Homo sapiens: one gene and its partners. The protein of the gene in region 2 purifies or fractionates together with the protein of the main gene of each other region. This does not show direct contact. Each region holds a gene or a part of one and is shown on either strand. Other genes may lie near its edges.

Region 1 (3,298 bases), about 130 Mb from region 2:
AGGTTAGTGAAGGCTTAGACACTTGTCTTGTGCTTATATCAAGTTGGCAAGGTCAGGCCTGGGCTTTGGGTCTGTGTTTCTGAGGAAGGAGGAAGGGAGGCCAGGGGCCTGATAGTCTGTTGTTCTCCCCTATATTGCAAGCTCCAAGAGGACAAGGGTTTTGGTTGTTTTCATCTAGCTATTTCTAGCACTTAAAATTATGCCTAGCACTTAGAAAGCAAAGATGAGTAATTGTGTTTGGAATGTGAAGTGTATCCTAGGACAGCCACCCAAGACCCAGGACTAACTCATCTCACCTGGCTGTCTTAGAGCCCCTGACCTGACCAGTGGGGTCAGCTTGAGTGCGGTTCACCAAGGAGCAGAGGACAAGGTGCCCTGTGATAGGAAGGGGGGAATGGGTGGTAACTCTATGGCTGATCCCCGCTTCTGAGCCACATTATTTTCTCTTCCTTCCTGGGAACCCTAGAACTGCCTGATAAAGAGGGATGAGAATGGTTACTCTGCAGTGGTAGCTGACTTTGGCCTGGCTGAGAAGATCCCCGATGTCAGGTGTGTAGCCCTACTGGATGCTGGGGTCCAAGGGACAGGGGGCTGAAGCTAAGGGAAAATTCTAGCCTCCTCCCCAGAGGCCAGGACTTGGTCACAGCTCAACCTCAGCTCCCTAAATTTGTTTAGTCCTCGTCTGTACCCATCCTTGAGGTGGAGGAATGGTCAAAAGATTCCATTGCACCAGCCATTGGCAAGCTCATTTTCTGTATAATCTCACCCCACAGCATGGGGAGTGAGAAGCTGGCCGTGGTGGGTTCCCCATTCTGGATGGCACCTGAGGTTCTCCGAGATGAGCCCTATAATGAAAAGGTAAGTTTGGAGGATCTCAAGGCCTGATTCTCCTTTTTTCTTTTTCTTTTTTTTGAGATGGTCTCACTATGTTGCTCAGGCTGGAATGCAGTGGCACGATCTCGGCTTACTGCCTCCCGAGTTCAAGCTATTCTCCTGCCTCAGCTTCCCAAGTAGCTGGAATTACAGGCATGCACCACCACGCCCAGCTAATTTTTTTATTTTTAGTAGAGACAGGGTTTCACCATATTGGCCAGGCTGGTCTCAGACTCCTGACCTGAAGTGATCTGCCCACCTCGGCCTCTTGAAGTGCTGGGATTACAGGCATGAGCCATCGCGCTCGGCTGATTCTCCCTAGAATCCACTCTTAGCAGAGTGTCCAAGATGTTCCTACCAAGAGCAGTGGTGGTACCTGGCAGCTGCCCAGTGACTGACTGGGATGAAGTATGGGCAATATGGCCCAGGCCTGGGCTGTTAGATGGTGGGGTGCAGGGGAGGCAGGGGCAGGGGCAGATACCCTACCCCTCAACCCATTAAGAGGGAAACCAAAGTCCGACTACCCACCAGGCAGATGTGTTCTCTTATGGTATCATCCTCTGCGAGATCATCGCCCGCATCCAGGCCGATCCGGACTATCTTCCCCGCACAGAGGTGAGCTGCAAGCATGGGGATCATTGCCACTGATGGGGCTAGTTTGAAGCAATGGAACTGTTCTGTCCCTGGGATGGACTTGCTGGAACTCTCTGTTGCTGGTTGTCAGGGGCAGCTCCCAACCACTTCTACTGAGCAGGCTAGGATGGGTGGGGGGATTAATGAACTGTCTACCTATGCTTTCCATACCCATCCACAGAATTTCGGGCTGGACTATGATGCTTTCCAGCACATGGTGGGAGACTGTCCCCCAGATTTTCTGCAACTTACTTTCAACTGCTGTAACGTGAGTGTCTTTCTCCCTCTGCCTTTCATCAGGGGCTGGCTGAACCCTTTTCACCTGGTTAGGACTGTACAGAGAGGCTGCTAATTAGCTTCATGAGGGACCTCATTTTCACTGTAGTGACAGCAACCACACCTCCTCCTCCTCCCTCTGGCAGCTAACCTATTCAGAGCTCTGGACAAAGGAAAGAAAGAAGTTGTTTTGTATTATCTGGTCCTCAACCTGTAGGGTAGACCCATCACTCCTTGCGTTAGGTGTTGATGGAACTCTGGTCCGGTTTTATTGTTGGACTGTGGATCCAACTGGTCCTGAGGCATATGAGAAAGGCTCTTCTTGGCCTTCATGTATGTAGCTCTGGGGCTGGACCTTACCTGTTAGGATCAAGGGGTAGGTGGGCTTTGTTCAGATACCTCCCAGAAACACATTAGGAGCAGAACTCAAGAACAGAATAAACTAATATGAGCATACTTTTGGAAGGTTCTGTGACAAGGTGATAAGACAAACACTAAGACAGGGAGGGTAGTAGACAGTAGTGTTTTCCCTGACCTGAACTGTAGGGATCACCTTCATTGTCTGGGGCCTTTAGAAAAGGTCTCTCAGCTGCACATCTGAATCTTCAAAGATGCCAGAAATAGACTCAAATGCCATCTTTGGGGTGGGAGATGGAGGGCAGAGCTCATGGCTGTTGTGGATACCTACAGATGGATCCCAAACTGCGCCCATCTTTTGTGGAGATTGGGAAGACCCTGGAGGAAATTCTGAGCCGCCTACAGGAAGAAGAGCAGGAGAGGGATAGGAAGCTGCAGCCCACAGCCAGGGGTAAGAGATTAGACCAGGGAGCCCAACCTAACCCTAAGGGAGGAAATTCGGATGTGGGGCCTTCTCCTCTTAGGGTTGTGATTGCCAGGATCCCAGGTCCAGAAACAAATGGGAGGGGAAGGAGATGATGCAGAAAGTACTGGCCTTTTTAAGAGCTGTGGCTTGGCATACTGCTTCCCCTCTCTGAGTCTGTTTCTTCATTGGTAAAACAGGGCCATGGTATCAGCTTTGCTTTCATGAGTGAAAACATTCTGTGGTAAAATGCTGCTTGTATTTGTTATGACTAGTGAGAGTAACCCAGACTTGATTATTCTTCAGGACTCTTGGAGAAAGCACCTGGGGTGAAGCGACTAAGCTCACTGGATGACAAGATCCCCCACAAGTCACCATGCCCAAGACGTACCATCTGGCTGTCTCGAAGCCAGTCAGATATCTTTTCCCGTAAGCCCCCACGTACAGTGAGTGTCTTGGACCCATACTACCGGCCACGAGATGGTGCTGCCCGCACCCCCAAAGTCAACCCTTTTAGTGCTCGCCAGGACCTCATGGGGGGCAAGATCAAGTTTTTTGACCTGCCCAGCAAGTCTGTCATCTCTCTGGTATTTGACCTGGATGCACCAGGGCCCGGAACTATGCCCCTGGCTGACTGGCAGGAGCCCCTGGCCCCACCTATTCGCCGGTGGCGTTCCTTGCCTGGTTCGCCTGAGT
Region 2 (5,157 bases):
CTCCAGATTCCACTTTTATGCTGAAACCTAGAGGCCATGAGTTAAAACTACCTGCCCAGAATTAGACAACCAACTTGTGGCAAAGCCAGAATGAAACCAATACTCTAAGCTTCTAGTTGTATCCTCTAGACTAGGTTCCCAATTTGTAGATTTCCCTGAAACATGTTAGACTACACTCATCAAAGTCTCTTTAAATTGTGAGAAGAACCTAGGTGATCCAAGACAACGAAGGTTTTGAACACACAGACAAGAAACAAGAAAAACAAAAATTCTGTATTCTCCAAATTGTTTTTCTACATTCTATTACTTTTATTTCAAAGTTTTTACTTCAAAGTTTTCAAACATACACCCTGTTCATACAATAGGCAACTTAAAACTAGCTAAGGACATAGCCAAGAGTCATTCCAATAGTTCTGAAATATTTACATAAACTAAAGACAACAAAATAGTATCCAGGATGAGCTGCCTCAGAGGAAGGAAAGTAGCAATACTAAACAATAAATAAAAACAACTTCTGGTTAATTGATAGAGAAAACAAAAAAAGTTACAATGCAGTGGTAAGTCTGCAATTGGTCACAAAAATGCAAGGCATGGTATGTATATGTGTGTGTCACACACATATACATACCATGCATTTCTGTGATGTCTGATATGAAGTCTTGACATCAATTGAACCACGCAGAAAGAAAACTTCTAAGTCGTGGTCACTCTTGAACAATAAACATATATCCTGTTCAGAAGGACGAAAGAAAAAAAACATAATGTAAACTTGCTCTCACTCTCTCTCTCTCTTACACACACACACACACACACACAAAATATACAATATATATTTCACAAATCAACCCCTAGGAATGGACTACAAAACAACATACATTTGTAGACTTTTATGTCCTTACAAATGAAGAACGATAGTTAACACTAGGTCCAGAGAACCCAGATTGTTTTGGATACTGAAATACCGAATTATCATATACATGTATTCTTAGAATAGCATGGCCCTATTTCTAACATCACACAAATAAACAGTATGCCAAAGAAGTGTGTAAGGAGAGAAAGATGATAGAATGGGAAAACGTTGTAACTACAATATACTCTAATTCATATGCACTTTCAGATTCTCACCAACCTTTGTTCTAAATGACCAGCTAAGTGGGATTTAGCAGGCAGACGGAAAATCAGGCACCAAAGTTTTTAATCTAATTTGCTGAGAACAAACTGGGTGACCTTGCATCGTCTCCCACTCCTTTGCTTTAAATCTTCCGGTACGTAGAGTAACATCAAGAAACAGCCAGCAAAATACAAAGTGGTACACAAATCCTTAAGAACTGGTTATAAGAAGAATTCCTGGATTTTTATGATTAAAAGGGTCACTAGTGATGATTTAATCCAATCCACTCACTTTACAGATGAGGAATCACAAGCCAAAAATGTGACTCGATCTGCCCCAAATCCCATAGCCATTTAGTGGTAGAACTGAGACAAGAACTGAGATCTCTGGACTCCTAGTTCTATGATCTTTGCGATGGACATTAAGTCTTCAAATCAACTGAACTACACAGAAAAAAACCTAAGTCTTGGTCACTCTTGAATAGTAAGCATATACCCTGTTCAGAAAGATGAAAGAAAAAAACATAAGGTACTTGATCACTACAGGCTTAGATGCACAAGACTGCAGGATAACATCTTAACATTGTGTTTGATCCCAGGTGCTTCAAATTTGCCATCTTATACTCAGCCACGTTACTAATGTCTTCTGCAGTCACGTGAGCTAGGCGATAAACATCTTGCCGTTTCAATATTTTGGAAAGCCACAGCTCAGTCCTGAATGCCAGGCTATAAATCCTTAAGCTATGAGTTTTCAAAACCAGCATGGTTTTAGTGCTGCCACAAGGCTCACCCTAATAGAATCTCATCATTCAGTTTTAATTAAAGAGGTGGTTACCAGGAATGCAGAAAGGGAAAGTTTTAGTGTGTTCATCACTTTTAACCTGCTGAGTGGCAACCCAGTCACTTTACAACGAGATTCAGAAACAATAGTGTAATCTGAAACAATCCACACCCGTTGGAATAAGTGGTTGCTTTTAGAGAGAGTGAGGTTCAGGCAGAGGTTATAGATTAGTCTTGCTCCCACCAAATACATAGTTTGCATTTTTTTCATTCATTAGCTTATCCTCTGCTTTTTCATAATATCTTGGTTTCCAGTCTTGCCTCATTCAACAATAAAAAGAGACGAAAATCCATTCACTTGGTTTCATGGAGTTTTTCCATCATACCTTCTTGAAGATTGATTGCCTGGCTGTTCCCTTGAAGTAATCGCCTAAGAATTACGTCTTGGATAGCCCAACTCCCGCATTAAACTTACTGCAGGTGTCTGAAGAGGTCCAAAGACCATACTGAGTGACATCCCTGCCCAAGTGATAGTCTGAAGAAACTTGTCAGAAATGCACCCCCAGAACAAAAAGGGATGTGGGAAACTGACCTAGCACGGATGAGGACTGGGAATGAGCCTGTGACTTAGGGAATGAATTTCAGCCCAAGCAAAAATAGGAAACACCAGCCTCTAAGACGGCCTGTGGTCCTTACCGTACACCCGGACCCAGCTCTGTTGCTGGCACACGGACTCCAGAAGGATCCGATCCAACATGCCACCGGCGACGGCTCCACTGACTGGGACAACCGCGTCCAGGTCCTCCGGGGGCAGCGGCGAGTCGGACTCCAGCGCCGGGAACATCTCCGGCCAGGACAGCGCCTCCGCGGCTCCTCCGGACGACGGAGAGAGCTCCATGGTGCCCCGAGGCGGGAGGGGGACGAGGCGGCGGCTTCGGGGCGGGCTGGCGCGCGGCTCCGCGCCCTGCCTGCGGTAAGGGGAGGAGGAGAGCGCGCAGCGAGGGCAGGGACCCGAGCGGCAGCCGGCGCGGACACCTCTCACCTCCTTCCCCGTCGCCCACTGCCCGAGGCTCGGGCGATGCAGCCCACCTGCAGTCGGCGGGCGGGACCCAGGCCGGGAGGAGGATCCAGCGTGGCCCCGACCAAGGGTGGGTCCGGGCTCAGGTGTGTGTGGGTCCCTCCCGGGAGAGGACGCAGAAGAACCCGGGAGGGGAGGCTCGCCCTCCCACCTCCTCGGAGCCGCCTTCTTCAGCCCCGCCGGCGTCTCTCGCGGTCAGACCAGGCTCTGGCTGGGGATGGAGCGGGGCCGGGCAGGGCTGGGCTTGGGGGCGTCGCCGCCAGGGGCCGCCCCCTCTGACCGGCTCCCGCCGCCGCCGCCTCAGAAGCTCCGAGTGCCCGTTCCCTCAGCCTGAGGAGGGGTAGGGGGCGGTGGCCCCGGGTTCTAGCCCGCCTGTCCTCGGCCCCCACTTCTGGAATGAGCCTGCCCGCCCCCTGACTCTCAGGCCACAGCTCCGGCCACAGCTCTGGCTCCTGCTCCGCGGCGGATCCCACAAACCCGGCAGCCACGGCGGTGGCGGTGGCGGTGGCGGTGGCGGTGGCGGCGGCGGCGGCGGCGGCAGCGGCAGGCGGCATCCCAGGGTGATAGGCTGAAGCAATCGAGGGCCGAGAGCCCGGCCGCGTGTGCACTCGAGTAACGAAGCCGGGGAGGGACTGCGCCGCAGGCAGGAAAAGTCGGACACCGAATTATTCATCCGGCCTGTCCCGCCTACTTTCCAAGTACCCTCCCAGGGATAGCCGGGTATTGAGCGGTCCGGGTCTCTGCTGCTCAAAGTAAAGACCGTTTGAGAAGGCGGGGAGGTAAAAGGGTGCGGGAAATTTAAACAGAAAAGAAAGGAGCTTCCCTTCCTTCTCACACCTTTCCTATTTATTTGTTTCTTTCTTTCTTTATGGGCCAACGTTTCTTTCTTATTGGACAAAGAGATCGAAGAAGCTGCTTTATCTTACAGTCACCCAAGGGGGAGCGCCTTCTTCCTTCCCAGAGTGGAGTGGCAGTGGGTCCGGGATTCTGGGATATGCACAGGGTCTGCGCCCTGCGCCCTGTCCGCGCTGAAGCTGAACTTGTCATTGGTTTGCAACAGCATGGTGAAGAAGTGTGGTGTGGATGGACGGACGGGCCTCTCAGGCACATGAAATACTCAAAGCCCAGTATTAACCAAACATGTTTCTCTGTTTTGTCTTTGATCTTTGTGCAGTGTGTTGGCTTTTTTCCTTTAATGATGTCACTTGTATTTTATTTTTGGTTTATTTGTAGACTGTCTCCCTCCTTGGCCATGGCTTTACTTTTATGTCCACCCAAGGAGAGTTTCACCAGTTTAGGTTTAAGAAATTACTGACAAGTTAACAATAATAATTTCAAAATTGAACAGTAATAACTTAAACCGTGCCTTGGACATAGTAGATCTCCAACAGTTTTTCTTGAATGTGGCTACCTAATGTGGAACAAGATTTTTCATAATTACATGTTGCTATTTTTAATACCTTTTGGGAGGTTCTTTAGTCCCCCCCGCCCTTTCTCCCTACGTTGCACAAAGAGACTGGTCTACAAGGGGTCCTGTTAGTTTTCTGGTTTTGTGGGGTCCTGGAATATTGTTTGGGCTTATTGAGAGTTAACAAGGATGTATTTTGTGAGTTTCTCCAAAGTCTTATTTAGAGTAATAGTATTTCAAAGCAAGAAGTGTTTTAGAGAGAACATCATTCTGCCTCTTGTTTAACAGGTGAGGAAACTGAGGAAAAACCAGCTTACCTGGCTAATCAACCACAAGTACAGATAGTTCCACAATGACTCAATGGATATTACTTCAACTTTGTTCCCTCAAGAAACTTTTGTGATTAAGCTTGTTGATTTGTGGCTTGATGGTTTACAGGAATGGTCATTTTTAATATCTAGGACCCTGCTTGCTTGCTTGCTTGCTTGCTTACTAGACTGGCTGCATAGTCAGTCTTCCACGTGTAAACAACAGTGTGTGCTTTAGTGGATAAGAGATGTTGAGTGCTGAGATTTCAAGGCTCAGCACTGAGTAGACCTAGAGCATTTTTATTTATACTAAATTAATGCCATGGTAACATAAGTTAGACAGCAAGTGAATATGGCATCAAATGTACAAAGTTGAGTATCTCTTTACTAGTCAATGTATAAGGAATTTATTTACCCAAGCAATTATCTTAAAAACAGCATTACAAGTGGTATGCGAAACATTTCCAGAATTT
Region 3 (4,408 bases), on a different chromosome or scaffold from region 2:
TTTTGTTAGTACATTGATTTTGATGCTGTTTGTATTTTTCAACAGGAAATCATACTCATTTTAGAAATAAGAATATTTGTGTATTCTTCTTCAGGCTTTTAATCTTGCACAGTTTTTGCTTGTTGACTACAATCCTTGGGTGAAGTTTAATGAATAAAATGCCAAGATTTATCTTCAATCCTTTTGTAGACACTCCACATTCATGGATGTGTATATATATTTAGTCACACACGTGCCCAGACATGTTAGTCAGTTTACTTTCTCTGGCTACCACGGGGGCCACCATTTCTACTCTTGGTCAAAAAGAGACATTTGGAAATTGGGCATTCAGCAATTTTGGGAAATACCAGTGAATCCTGATTACGCTTGTGTGTTTTTACCACATAGTTAAAACAAGGTGAGAGTTGGGAGGTTCATTGTACAGTTGACTGTGAGTTGGGGATTTAAAAAAAATTCCTTTAATCTATCCCTAGCCAGTGTCCTTTCAAATGATCATTTATTGGAATGTTGTGATTTTAAAATCAGATTTTTTCCCCCCAATACATTTTATTCTTGTTTAGTGACAATGATAGAAGAAGAGAAATCATTGTGTGGGTTGTTAATATGACTAGTCATGGGTGCTCTTCACAGCTTCTGTTGGCTTTGTTCCAACCTGCAACATGCACCCGGGTGTGTAACCATAAACCGTTTTATAATGTTTTGGTAAAGTGGCCACAGTTTTTGCGGGGATAGACTGCCTGCCTAGTAACTTAGTTCCTTAATTTAATGAAGATTTTTTTTTCTAGTTCTTCTTAGTGAATCTGTATGTTCCTCTCTTATTGGTGGAGAGTAGTACAGTCATATAAATATATATTTTGTGGGTAGTTGAAATGTTCTTTTAGGTAGTGCCAGAGAATATCTGTGGTCTGCCTGTATTATTTGGAAATTGACTTCAAATGAATTTTCCATGGAAGCAGTGAAAGTGCCACACTTGTCATGGAGCTAGTGTGTGCAGGTGTGTGTGTGTGTGTGAGAAAGGGGCCTAGTGTTCAGTATACACATAGCATTTCCTGTTTTTCCAGTTAGAAGTGGCTCTGCCCTTGCCTCAATGTGACATGTGTTTTAACTCATGTGGCCTGATTTGCTTGTTTGATTTTTCTTACAGGTATTTTTCATTCCAGGATTCACTAGCGTTACAAGATCGAACTGTTTTGATTGTTCATCCCTGGTTGTTATCTCTACCAGCCTTTTTCTGAGTAATTTCAGTGTGAAGCATGCTGCTGTTTAGGTACTGTGAGTTATCCATAAAGGGACCAAATCGCAGGGCCCTTTAATTAAGCATACCGGCATATTAGCAAATACCTTTATACGTTTTGTGCCAGAGATACTTAAGTATCTTCATTTTCTTTGGACTTTTCATTTTACCAGATGGTATTAATTATTCACATATACCTTGTATTAGTGAGAGAACCAGAGAACCAGAACCAATAGAATATACATAGAAAAAAAGAGATTTATTACAAGGAATTGTCTTACATGATTATGGAGGCTGAGAAGTCCCATGATCTGCTGTCTCCAAGATGGAGACCCAGGAGAACCAATGGTATAAGTTCTAGTATAAGGTCAGGAAAATATAGATGTATTAGCTAAGCAGCTAGAGAGAGAGAGAGAGAAAGAGAGAGACAGAGAGAGAGACAGAGAGAATTCAATCTTTCTTCACCTTTTTGTTCCATTTGGGCCTTCTACTGGTTGGATAATGCCCACCCACATTGGGGAGGGCCTTTTCCTTTACTCAGTCCATCAATTCAATGCTGATTTCCTCCAGAAACACCCACAGGTACAGCCAGAAATAATGTTTAACAAGATATCTGGGCACCCCAGTAGACCAATCAAGTAGACACATAAAATTAACAATCACATATCTGTAATACAATCAGAGTCAGGTTTTGTTAAAACATTTTTGTAAAAGTATACTTCCCAAGTTGGTTTAAATGAGCTGACTCCAAGAGTGTTAACACCAGGTACCACTTCTCTAAGTCCTGCTTCTCTACAAAGTCTTTCTCAGTAGTGCTAGCAACATCATACTTTTTCCTTCCTGACCAACACTTCCTTTATTGAACCAATTGATGGCAGCATTTTTGGTGTATTCTTGGTTTTGTGAGTGTATCTTCTGTAAGACAGTAAGTTCATCCACAATGAAGACAGTATCTACTGGCATACCTTGGAGACAAATTGTGGGTTTGATTCCAGACCACCACCATAAAGTGAGTATTACAATAAAGTGAGTCACTTGAATTTTTTGGTTTCTGGGTGCATATAAAAATTATGCTTAAACTATACTGTAGTCTATTAAGTGTGCAATAGCATTGTCTAAGAAAACAATGTACATACCTTAATTAAAATACTTTATTGCTAAAAAATGCTGATGATCATCTGAGCCTTCAGCAAGTCATACTCTTTCTGCTGCTGGAGGTTCTTGCCTTAGTGTTGATGGCTGGTGACTGATCAGGGTGGCAGTTACTGCATGTTTGGGTAGCTGTGGCAGTTTCTTAAAATAAGACAGTAATGAAGTTTGCTGCATCAACTGACTCTTCCTTTCACCAAAGATTTCTCTAGAGCATGTGTTGCTGTTTGATAGCACTTTCCCCATAGTAGAACTTTCAAAATTGTAGTCAGTCTTCTCAAACCCTGCCACTGTTTTATCAACTAAGTTATGTAATATTCTAAATTGTTTGTTGTCCTTTCAACAGTGTTTAGAGCATCTTCAGCAGGAGTAGATTCCATCTCAAGAAATGAGTCTTTATTTTTTCATCCATAATAAGCAACTCCTCATCTGTTAGTTTTATCATGAGATTGCAGCAATTCAGTCACATCTTCAGGCTCCGCTTGTAACTCTAGTTCTCTTGCTATTTCCACCGGATCTGCAATTACTCCTCCATGGGAGTCTTGAACCTCTCAAAGTCATCTATGAGAGTTGGGATCAACTTCTTCCAAACTCCTGTTAATGTTAATATTTTGATCTCCTCCCATGAATCATGACCGTTCTTAATGGTATTTAGAATGGTGAATCCTTTCCAGAAGGTTTTTGATTTACTTTTCCACTTTTCCTGGATACATCAGAGCAATCAGTATCTATGGCAGCTATAGCCTTACAAAGGGTATTCCTTAAGTAATAAGACTTGAAAGTTGAAATTACTCATTGATCCATGTGCTGCAGAATGAATGTTGTGTTAGCAGGCATGAAAACAACATTTATGTCTTTGTACATCTCTATCAGAGCTTTTGGGTGACCAGGGGCATTGTAATTGAGCAGTAATATTTTGAAAGGAATCTTTTTCCTGAGCAGTGGGTCTCAACAATGGTCTTAAAATATTCAGTAGATCATACTGTAAACAGATGTGCTGTCATCCAGGCTTTGTTGTGTAGAGCACTGAGAGAGTAGACTTAGTATCATTCTTAAGAGCCCTGGGACATTCAGAATGGTAAGTCAGCATTGGCTTCAACTTCAAGTTACCAACTGCATTAGCTTCTAATGAGAGAGTCAGCCTGTCTTTTGAAGCTTTGAAGCCAGACATTGACTTCTCCCTCTAGCTATGAAAGTTTTGACCAGCAGTCCCCAACATTTTTGGCACCAGGGACCAGTTTTGTGGAAGACAGTTTTTCCACGGACTGGGGGATGGGGTGGGGGAGGGGGATGGTTTCATGATGATTCAAGCTCATTACATTTTTCATTAGATTCTCCTAAGAAGCACGCAACCCAGATCCCTTGCATGCACAGTTCACAATAAGGTTCGTGCTCCTTTGAGAATCTAATGCCTCCACTGATCTGACAGAAGATGGATTGCTTGCCTGCCACTCACCTCTTGCTGTGCAGCCTAGTTCCTAAACCCAGGGATTGGGGTCCCCTGTCCTAGATGACATCTTCTTCCAATATAAGGCCATTTTGTCTACACTGAAAACCTGTTGTCTAGTTGTAGCCATCTTCATCAATGATCTTAGCTCCATATTCTAGATAACTTGTGCAGCTTCTACATCAGCACTTGCTGCTTCACCTTGCACTTCTATGTTATGGAGATGGCTTCTTTCCTTAAATCTCATGAACTGCCGGGCACACTGGCTCATACCTGTAATCCCAGCACTTTGGGAGGCCAAGGTGGGTGGATCACTTGAGGTCAGGAGTTCAAGACCAGCCTGGCCAACATGGCGAAACCCTGTCTCTACTAAAGATGCAAAAATTAGCCAGGCCTGGTTGTGCGTGCCTGTAGTCCCAGCTACATGGGAGGCTGAGGCAGGAGAATTGCTTGAGCCCGGGAAGCGGAGATTGCAGTGAGCTGAGATCGCACCACTGCACTCCAGCCTGGGCGACAGAGCAAAACCCCATCTCAAACAAACAAACAAACCTCATGAACCAACGTCTGCTAGCTTTCAA
Region 4 (4,384 bases), on a different chromosome or scaffold from region 2:
CAGGTTCATGCCATTCTCCTGCCTCAGCCTCCTGAGTAGCTGGGACTACAGGCCCCCGCCACCATGCCCGGCTAATTTTTTTATTTTTATTTTTAGTAGAGATGGGGTTTCACCATGATAGCCAGGATGGTCTCGATCTCCTGACCTCGTGATCCACCTGCCTCGGCCTCCCAGTGCTGGCATTACAGGCGTGAACCACTGCGCCTGGCCAACAAACAGTCTTAACACAAATAAAATAACGACTGGGAACAATGATGTAGCCTGCCAGAAGGCAGGTAACACAACCAGGATGAAAACAATCAGGTAAGCGCAGTATGCTTGCCCAACCCATTCACTATCAAGAGAAACTGGCTGCTTGGGAGACCTTTCAAGTAAGTTAGGTGACTTAAAGCAGAACTCCTCTGTACCCCACAAATCCTTCTGTATCTGTCAGCAACAGCCAGTTAAGCATTGACAGGCTGGCGGTCCCTCTACCTCCCCTCGCATCCCCGCTTCTGTGCTTTGTCCATAACAGACAGTGGTGCTGCTGGCACAGACTGAGACACTGGGTAAGCAAACATGAAAGCAGGGGAGGCCGGGCGCGGTGGCTCACACCTGTAATCCCACCACTTTGGGAGGCCAAGGTGGGCGGATCACTTGAGGTCATCAGGAGTTCGAGACCAGCCTGGCCAATATGGTGAAACCTCGTCACTACAAAAAAAACAGTAATGAGCCGGGCGTGGTGGCACATGCCTGTAATCCCAGCTACTCAGGAGGCGGAGGCTGCAGTGAGCCAAGACTGTACCTCCAGCCTGGGCAACAAAGCAAGACCCTGTCTCCCAAAAAAAAAAAGCGGGGAAAAGATCGGGCTGCGCACCCTGAAGGAAGAGACAGGAGGGTGAAGTTCAGGAAGACAAGATGGAAACATTCTTATATCCAGATCTGGGTGGTGCCTGCACAGAGCACACATACAATACTTCACTGATAAGTATGCTTAAGACCTGTGCCATTGCCTTATATAACCTACACCTCCATGAAAACCCAAAACAAACAGGCCACAAGCTCCCTGTTTGCTATCCTTTATTAAAGGGCCCACATCCTCATGGGACTCCAGCCAAACCAGTCAGGTCCCCCAAATATAGCAGGAGGCCTGGAAGGGGAGGGGAATGACTTATGATCCTACCATGCCTCCCAAGAAACAGAAACCACCACAGACAGACAGACAGACGGACAGGGGCTGGGGAGAACTTGCCTCACTCTCAGTCCTCTCCCACTTTCCCCCACTTGAAAAGAAAGTCAAACACTGGCTACGCAGCACCCCAGCCCCCCACCCCACCCATAGCAGCGTTTGTGGGACACACCCCCTTTGCAAGGGGTGGCCCCGAGGCAGCTTCCTATCTCTCTCTTCACTTTGGTTTGCTCCTGGCAACTCCGTGCCCTCTTCCTTTCCTCAGCCTCCGGCTCGGTCTCCCCCTTGTCTTCTATCACCTACTCGGACCTTCTCTCTCATCTCCTGGGCCTCCCTGCCCCAGCACTTCTGGGGAAGCAGCGTCTCGGGCGTCTTCCCTTCTCCTAGCAAGGGGCCCCACCAGGCCCTCTGCCCAGGATGTGGGACTCACACAGCTGCCCCACTCTCCTTGAGGTCAGGGGCAGAACGCTGCCGTCTCATTCGTGGGGGAGTAGTGTATGGGGGGTAGCGGGGCCCTGGGGGCCGCTGGGCTGGGTAGGGTTGGGGTGGCTGGGGATAAGAGTTGTGCTTTTTGGGCTGGAAGTGCTGGGGTTCAGGCTGTGCAGAACCCGCTCCCCGGGATCGGCCCCCTCCATCCAGGGAGTTCCTGCGGGGATGGTGGGACCTTCGGGGACTCGGAGGCCGGCGGGCAGGGGTGGCTGGATGGGGAGTGACCTCCTCAGGGGGTTGGAGCGGAGTTGGAGCCTCCCCGCTCCCCATCCCTGGCCAAGACTCCCGGTGCTGGGGGTTGCTCTTGAAGGGGAAGCGTAGCTTGCAGTCGTGAGGGGGCACAAAGCGGGCTGGGGGCCTGCGCAGCCCCCCGCCCCGGCCCCCAGAGCCCTGCAGTCCCTGCAGCCGTAGCTGCTCCTGCTTGAGCCAGCGAAGACGACCACGACGGAAGGCAGGGTCCTCCTCCATGAGCCGTGACACCCGCTCCCAGCTTGACAGTGGTGGCGAGGGGGGCCGGGCTGACGGCATGCGGTCACTGGGGGCTGCCTCCTCTGCTGCCTCTGATCCTTCAGGCGGGGCCCAGGGGACCTCACCACCTTCTTCATTCTCATCCTCATGATCCTGGGAGGGAGGAGTGAGAAAAGGAGAAGGGATGTGAGGAGAGCTGAATCCTCAGGACATGTGGATTCAAGAGGGACCTGGAGTGGCTGGATGTCAAAGGGTCCAGAGAAAAGCCTAGAGATAAGGAAGCTCGAAAAATAGTGGTTTAGGGCCGGGCGCAGTGGCTCACGCCTGTAATCGCAGCACTTTGGGAAGCTGAGGTGGGCGGATCACAAGGTCAAGAGATCAAGACCATCCTGGCCAACATGGTGAAACCCCGTCTCTACTAAAATACAAAAAAAAAAAATTAGCCGGGTGTGGTGGTGCGCGCCTGTAGTCCCAGCTACTCAGGAGGCTGAGGCAGGAGAATGGCTTGAACCTGGGAGGCGGAAGTTGCAGTGAGCCGAGATTGTGCCACTGCACTCCAGACTGGCAACAGAGCAAGACTTCACCTCAGAAACAAAACAAAACTGCAAACTTTATATCAGTGGGTCTTAGACTTCACTGTATTTCAGAAACACCCAGAGCTTATTATAAATGCAGATTTGTCCCCAAAGATGTGGATTCAGTAGGTCTGGGGTGGAACCCGGGAATCTATTTTAATTAGCAGCCTGGTGACAGCGAGGCATGTGGTTCGTAAACAATATTGAAAAAAACGTACTATACTTCAATGCAATTTTTTCCAGACTTGGGGAAGGTTAGGCTCTGAGATGGAAGGTTCAGACTCCTAAAGTGAAGAGCCGAGGGAGGAGAGAAGGGAGGCAGAAGGCCAGTCCTACCTGGGCCAGGGGGATGACCCTCTCCATGCGGAGCATGCGGTCCCGCAGGGCCTGCAGCTCCCGGTCCTTGCTGCTGTTCTGCAGCTTCACCTCCTGCAGAATCCCCGTCAGCTTGTCGATGTGGGCCCGGAGGTCCTCCACCTCCGCCCCTCGGGCTCCCTCCTCACTGCCACCACCACTGCCAGCTCCACCTCCTTCCTCCTCGCCTACAGTGTCCCAGACATCCCGGGCCACAGCCCTCCAGGCGTCTCCGGGGCCGTCTGGCTTGCCATAGGTGCGACACAGCTCCCGCATCTTGAGGGCGGCCAGGGCCTCAATCTCAGCCCGCCCGTGGCGGAAGTCAGCCAGGGCCACCTCGTAGCAGATCTCCTTCACCGCCTGCATCTTCAGGTCAGCCATGGTGGCCCAGCGGGGGTCTTTGCCCTGCAGCCTGCGTCGCTGGGGGATCTGATAAACCCTGCGAGGGGCCCTGCGCTTGCCACTGCTGGGCAGACCACAGCGTTTGACAATGGTCTGGACCGTGGTGGGCGGCAGCTGCTCCCGCAAGGAGGAGATGAGCCTCCAGCTCTCTTCACAAGAGCGCTTGTCAGAGTCATCCCCGCTGTCCGAGTCTGCATACTGGGGCCAGAGAAAGAAAGAGGAAGAGAGGGCTAAGGACATCCAGAGCCCATGTGTCTTGGCCCAGTGTGTCCTAAGTACACTGGAAACACGCCCATCAGGGAGCCTGGGTTCAAGTCCTGCTCCACCCCAACAGCGCACCCTTGGGCAGACTGCTTAACGCTGCTCTTCTAGACAACAGAGATAGTGACGGGATCTACCTCCCAGATCCACGTGGAGTACTTAGAACCATGGCCGGCACCGAGAAAGTTACCATAAGTATTAGTTGTAGCTAATCGAGTGTGGAACTTTGTGCAAGACTTAAAAGACCATTGAGGGGTGGTGGCTCGTGCCTGCAATCCCAGCATGTTGGAAGGCCAAGGCAGGAGGATCACTTGAGCCCAGGAGCTGAAGACCAGCCTGGGTAATGTAGTGAGACCCCCACCTCTACAAAAAATAAAAAATGTAGCCAGGCATGGAAGTGCACACCTGTGATCCCAGCTACTCAGGAGGTTGAGGTGGAAGGACTGCTTGAACCCAAGGAGTTCGAGGCTGCAGTGAGCTATGATCAGGCCACTGCACTCCAGCCAGGGTGACAGAGCAAGATCCTGCCTCAAAAACAAAATAGAAAGTCCATGGCCGGGTGCGGTGGCTCATGCCTGTAATCCCAGCATTTTGGGAGGCTGAGGCAGGCGGATCACCTGAGGTCAGGAGTTCGAGACCAGCCTGGCCAACATGGTGAAACCCTGTC

Evidence for each region.
Region 1: the proteins of RASAL2 (region 2) and TESK2 purify together in Homo sapiens (affinity purification with mass spectrometry, with the first as the bait; one large-scale study listed by BioGRID). This does not show direct contact.
Region 3: the proteins of RASAL2 (region 2) and FAM110B purify together in Homo sapiens (affinity purification with mass spectrometry, with the first as the bait; one large-scale study listed by BioGRID). This does not show direct contact.
Region 4: the proteins of RASAL2 (region 2) and KIF1C purify together in Homo sapiens (affinity purification with mass spectrometry, with the first as the bait; one large-scale study listed by BioGRID). This does not show direct contact.

What each region holds. Positions count from the first base shown.
Region 1 is NC_000001.11:45,345,169-45,348,466, reverse strand, and holds part of TESK2 (dual specificity testis-specific protein kinase 2), read left to right. Parts: intron 1-466; coding exon 467-549; intron 550-773; coding exon 774-858; intron 859-1,404; coding exon 1,405-1,488; intron 1,489-1,687; coding exon 1,688-1,774; intron 1,775-2,472; coding exon 2,473-2,590; intron 2,591-2,908; coding exon 2,909-3,298. UniProt on the Homo sapiens protein: Dual specificity protein kinase activity catalyzing autophosphorylation and phosphorylation of exogenous substrates on both serine/threonine and tyrosine residues. Phosphorylates cofilin at 'Ser-3'. May play an important role in spermatogenesis.
Region 2 is NC_000001.11:178,092,124-178,097,280, reverse strand, and holds the start of RASAL2 (ras GTPase-activating protein nGAP), read right to left. Parts: upstream 3,178-5,157; 5' UTR 2,789-3,177; coding exon 2,587-2,788; intron 1-2,586. UniProt on the Homo sapiens protein: Inhibitory regulator of the Ras-cyclic AMP pathway.
Region 3 is NC_000008.11:58,000,382-58,004,789, forward strand, and holds part of FAM110B (protein FAM110B), read left to right. Parts: intron 1-4,408. UniProt on the Homo sapiens protein: May be involved in tumor progression.
Region 4 is NC_000017.11:5,021,362-5,025,745, reverse strand, and holds part of KIF1C (kinesin-like protein KIF1C), read right to left. Parts: intron 3,655-4,384; coding exon 3,037-3,654; intron 2,279-3,036; coding exon 1,595-2,278; 3' UTR 1-1,594. UniProt on the Homo sapiens protein: Motor required for the retrograde transport of Golgi vesicles to the endoplasmic reticulum. Has a microtubule plus end-directed motility.